2 separate regions of the Homo sapiens genome follow, and region 2 is linked to region 1. Evidence: fine-mapped expression QTL. A gene starts in region 1. The other region holds a variant in brackets. All regions are shown on one strand. Distances are between the middles of the regions.

Region 1 (2,932 bases):
GGAGGTATATTTCTCTTTCACAAATACGTGCACAACACATGAATGAGCTACTGGATGAGGGAATAAATGAATGAATGAGTGAAAAAAGCTTCCTTTCTCCTCTCCAGGAGTCAGCAGTCACTGGTTAGTTCCCCACTGCCCACCAGCCTGTGCAGAGGAGGGAGGAGCAACAGGTCATAGATGTGGTTGCAGCTGTTACTGGACAGAGTGGTCAAGACATCCTGTGTCTGCAGAGGCCCTCCCCAGCCCTCACCTGGGCAGTGGAGCTGTTGGCCAGAGAGGCAGTGGGAAGAAGGGTGGGGCTCCCAGAGTCGACCCTGCGGGCTGAAACTGGTGCAGCCTGCACCTCACCAGGCAGAGAATGGATGTGGGGCAGCTTGACACCGAGCAGGGGCTCATCTGAGCCTCAGGGGTGGTTGCTCTATCAAAGTGTTTGCAAGTAAACAGTCCCAGTGCACACCCAGCTGCTCAGTGCCACCTCGTGCACCCAGGGACACTTCAGCCTTGATCACAGGCCTGCACAGGTTCCAGGGGAGGAGACACTCCAGCTTTTTGAGGGAGGGTGAGCATGTGGGATCAGAGACTTTAAGTCCAAATTTCCCCTTAATTTTTTTTTAAATCTTGCAGGTAGTATGCAAACATACATTTAATGTATTATTTTTATTCTCATTTTTTTTTTGAGGCAGGGTCTCCCTCTGTTGGCCAGGCTGGAGGGCAGTGGTGAGATCTTGGCTTGCTGCAGCCTCAACTCAACCTCCCAAGCTCAAGTGATTTTCCCACCTCAGCCTCCCAAGTAGTTGGGACTGCAGGTGCCTGTCCGCCATGACCAGCTAATTTTTAAATTTTTTTTGTAGAGATGGGGTTTTGCCATGTTGCTCAGGCTAGACTCGAACTCCTGAGCTCAAGTGATCCTCCCACCTTGGCCTCCCAAAGTGCTGGGATTATAGGTGTGAGACACTGCATCCGGCTCCCAAATTTCCCCTTTTTATAAGGACACCAGTTGTACTGACCGGGGCCCCACCTCTATGACCTCATCTAACCTTCATTAACTCCTTAAAGGCCCTATCTCCAAATACAGGCACACTGGGGGTTAGGGCTTCAACCTATGGATTTGGGGGATGCAATTCAGTCTATCACAGTGCCAAGCTGCACCTGCTCGGTGAGCCAGAACAGGGGTGGGGAAGGCACCAGGCCCTGGTGCTTCTTTCCCATGCCTGAGTCACTCTACTTGGTTCTAGTAGGGAGAGGAGCATGGGCCGAAGGCAGTGCTGCAACATGGAAGGGGCAGAACATCCCAACCCGCTCTGGGCCCCCAGTGTCTTCTGCTGTACAAAGCAGGTGTTTTCACCCCCCGAGGATGTGTCCTCCCTTCCTGGCTCACCAAGCATTTAAATGTAGACAGAAAATTTATTTATCTGGGGTGCGGTTTCCTCAGGGGGAAGTTGAGGTCACGACCCCTGAGGTACCTTAACCCAAAGGCCTCCAGGGCACTGGCCCCAGAGTCTCCAGCAGGTGCTTCCTCCCTGAATGCTTCCATATGGCAAGATCAGAGCCACAAATGCTGCCCCGACGCTGTTCCGGTAACCGACGTTGCAGACCCAAGAAAGTCTGGGATGGTAGTGGCCAGGAACGGGGTGTGCCACGGCCCCACCTCTCAGAGCAGGGAGGAGGATGCTGGGCCAGCCCTTGGGGACCCCAGGCACCGTGGCCACAGGAGTCAGAGCTCTGCATGTCTGCACCATGTCCTGGGCTCCTGTCCTGCTCATGCTGTTTGTCTACTGCACAGGTGAGGGAACCCCCAGATCCCAAAGACTCCTGCCCCTTCCTTCATCCTGCCCTGCCCCCACGGCCCACATGCATCTGTGTCACCAGGTTGTGGTCCTCAGCCGGTGCTGCATCAGCCGCCGGCCATGTCCTCGGCCCTTGGAACCACAATCCGCCTCACCTGCACCCTGAGGAACGACCATGACATCGGTGTGTACAGCGTCTACTGGTACCAGCAGAGGCCGGGCCACCCTCCCAGGTTCCTGCTGAGATATTTCTCACAATCAGACAAGAGCCAGGGCCCCCAGGTCCCCCCTCGCTTCTCTGGATCCAAAGATGTGGCCAGGAACAGGGGGTATTTGAGCATCTCTGAGCTGCAGCCTGAGGACGAGGCTATGTATTACTGTGCTATGGGGGCCCGCAGCTCGGAGAAGGAGGAGAGGGAGAGGGAGTGGGAGGAAGAAATGGAACCCACTGCAGCCAGGACACGTGTCCCTTGAACTGAAGACAGCAGAGGCACGCATCCCCTTGGAGAGACTGTCATGGAAGAGGGTGGAGTCGCCGCCCGAAGCGCCGAGGAGGCTGAGCCACTCAGCATCTCCTGGTCCTGCAGTGTTGCTGTAAATCCCCATTGGAGACTGCATTAGGGAATTAAAGCTGCTTGTCACTTTTTGCTGAGTTTGGTCTGACTGTTGTGCGACTTCGTAGTACCAGCCTTGGGCAAAGGCCCGGGGCCCCGGGAGACTGGCAGATCACTGTGGTGAGCACTCACCTGAGTCCTTACTTTTGTGGGCCATGGGAGGCAAGGGGTTGACCGAAGCACCCTGGAGGGGCATCCATGCCCAGGACAGGACCCTCTGGTGTCATCTGATTCTGCCCAGCGGTTACAGGGCAAACAAGCTTAGAAAGCACCTGGTCTGGGCCTCCAGGGAGAACAGGAGCCAGGTAATAGGCCTAGAGTGGGTTCTCCACCTTGGTCCTATCGACGTTTTGGGCTGGACAGTTCTTGGTTGTGGGGCTGTCCTGCGGATTGTTGAATGGTGAGTGGTTATCTGTGGCCTCTACCCACCAGATGCCCCTTCCCAGTTGTGACAAACAAAAATGTCTCCAGACATTGCCAAATGTCCCCAGGTGGTAAACTCACACTGATTGTGAACCACTGGTCTAG
Region 2 (2,932 bases), 43 kb after region 1:
ATCATTTCATCTCATCATTTTATCTCATTTCATCTCATCTCATTTCAATTTCATTTCATTATTTCATTTCATTTCACTTCATTTCATCTCATCATTTTATCTCATCTCATTTCATCTCATTTCTTCTCATCTCATCATTTCATCATTTCATCTTGTTTCATCTCATTTCATCTCACCTCATCTCATCATTTCATCTCGGCCTTTCATCTCTTCCTTTCATTTCATCTCATCGTTTCGTCTCATCTCATCTCATCTTTCGTCTCATCTCATCTCATCTCACCTCAGCATGTCAACAAAACAAAACATCATTTCTTATTTCATCTCATTTTAGCTCATTCCGGGTGATAGGGTCAATTCAATTTCCTTGCATTATTTCATTTCATCGGATGCAGTGCGGGGGATTTCATTACATCTCATCATTTCCTCTCATCATTACATCTCATCTCATCTCATGATTTCATGATTTCATCTCATCATTGCATCTCATCATTTCAAATCCATCATTCATCTCGGCATTTCATCTCATCATTTCCATTTCATCATTTCATTTCATCATTTAATTTCATCATCTCATTTAATTTCACCTCATTTCATTATTTCATTTCATTTTTTCATTTATGTCATTTCATTTCATCTCATTACATTTCGTCTAATTTCATTTCATCCCATTTCATCTCATCATTTCATCTCATCTTTCATCTCATCATTTCATCTCATCTTTCATCTCATCATTTTATCTCATCATCTCATCAACTCTTTTCATCTTATCATTTCATCATTTCATCTCATCTCATATCTTCTCATCTCATTTCAATTTCATGTCATTATTTCATTTCATTATTTCATGTCATCTCATCTCATCATTTCATCTCATCATTTCATCATTTTATTTCATCATCTCATCTTATCATTTCATCTCATTTCAATTTTATTTCAATTTCATTATTTCATTTCATTTCATCTCATCAGTTCATCTCATCATTTCATCTCATCATCTCATCTCATCATTTCATCTCATCACTCATCTCATTTCATATCATCATTTTATCTCATCTCATCATTTCATCTCATTTCATCTCATCTCATTTCATCATTACATCTCATTTCATCTCATTTTATGTCATCATTTCATGTCATCATTTCATCACATCTCATCGTTTCATCTCATCATTTCATCATTTCATCTCATTTCAACTCATTGCATCTCATCTCATCATTTCCATTTCATTATTCCATTTCATCATTTCATTTCATTATGTCATTTCATCTCATATTTCATCTCATCTCATCATTTCATTTCATCTCATCATTTCATCTCATCATTTCATCTCATTTTATCTCATCTCATCATTTCATCATTTCATCTCATCATTTCTTCTCATCTCATCATTTCATTATTTCATTTCATCTCATTTCATTATTTCATTTGTCATTTCATCTCATTACATTTCATCTCATCATTTCATCCATCATTTCATTTCATCATTTCATCTCATGATTTCATCTCATCTCATCTCGTTATCGCATTTCATCTCATTATTGCATCTCATTTCATCTCATCTC[ATCATT/A]TCATTTCATCATTACATCTCATCATTTCAACTCATTTCAATTTCATTTCAATTTCATCATTACATTTCATAATTTCCTTTCATTATTTCATTTCATTTCATCTCATTTCATTATTTCATTTCATCTCATTTTTCATCTCATTTCATCTCATCATTTCATCTCATCATTCATCTCATTTCATCTCATCATTTTATCTCATTATTTCATCTCATCTCATCTCATTTCAATTTCATTATTTCATATCATTTCATTATTTCATTTCATCTCATCATTTCATCTCGTTTCATCTCATCATTTCATCCATCATCTCATCATTTCATCTCATTTCATCTCATCTCATCTCCTTTCAATTTCTTTTCAATTTTGTCATTTCGTCTCATCATTTCATCTCATCGTTTCTACTCACCATTTCATCTCAAAATTTCATCTCATCATCTCATCTCATCTCATCATTTCGTCATTTCATCTCATCTCAAGTCATCTTATCATTTCATCTAAGTGAAATGATGTAATGGAATCATGAAATGAAATGGATAGGATGCCCTCAGTGATGTTAAATTTAAAAATTGTTTCTTTTCATGTATGCATTTTTATATTTATATGTATTTATATTTATATTTACTTATATTTCTTTTTACTTATTTTTATTTATATTTTTACTTATTTCTTTATTTATAGACAAGGTCCTGTTCTGTGGCCTAGGCTGGAATGCAGTGGTGCATTCACAGTTCACTGCAGCCTCGAGCAAACCTCCCACCTTAGCCTCCCAGGTGGCTGGGACCCCAGGTGCACACCACCACACCTGGTTAATATTTTATTATTTGTAGAGATGGAGTCTTGCTATTCTGCCCAGGCTGGTCTCAAACTCCTGGGCTCAAGCAATCCTCCTGCATTGGCAACCCAAAATGCTGGGATGACAGATATGAGCCACAGTGCCCAACCTATTTATTTATTTATTTATTTAATAAGGACAAGGTCTCACTATGTTGCCCAGGCTGGTCAACTCCTGGACTCAAATGATTCTCCAAACGTGGCCTCTCAAAATGTTGGGATTACAGGTATGAGCCACCATGCCTGGCTAAAAATAGTATTATATTTTTGTATCATATAATTTTCAATTAGGTAATATGAATATTCTGTACAGGAAATACGCCCTTAATTACATAGGAATAAACATTTGTTACACTGAGAAAAATCTAACAGAGCTAAAAATAAAAATTAATTTGGAAAGGTCATTAGATACTGACACATTCTTACGTTTATACATTCTTTCATATATTCATATATTCTTTTAACAGTATCAATGGTTTGGAGTTATGTGTACAAAACCATGACCTATATGTAATACAACTAATAACAGGCA

What was found. PIP is the estimated chance that this variant, and not a neighbour inherited with it, causes the effect.
Region 2: its variant is the best candidate, but not a certain one, in a credible set for the expression of VPREB1 in whole blood (TOPMed, PIP 0.56).

The regions. Positions count from the first base shown.
Region 1 is chr22:22,243,074-22,246,005 of GRCh38, forward strand. It overlaps VPREB1 (V-set pre-B cell surrogate light chain 1), which reads left to right and starts at 1,713. Exons shown (of 2, transcript NM_007128.4): 1 at 1,713-1,786; 2 at 1,873-2,442. The coding sequence starts at 1,741. The coding sequence ends at 2,264. It also overlaps IGL.
Region 2 is chr22:22,285,656-22,288,587 of GRCh38, forward strand. It overlaps LOC105372952 (a long non-coding RNA gene), which reads right to left. Exons shown (of 3, transcript XR_938055.3): 3 at 2,641-2,932. It also overlaps IGL. Among named protein-coding and RNA genes, the nearest start is that of VPREB1, 42 kb to the left of the region's middle. The variant ATCATT/A (reference allele first, on the strand shown) is at 1,564.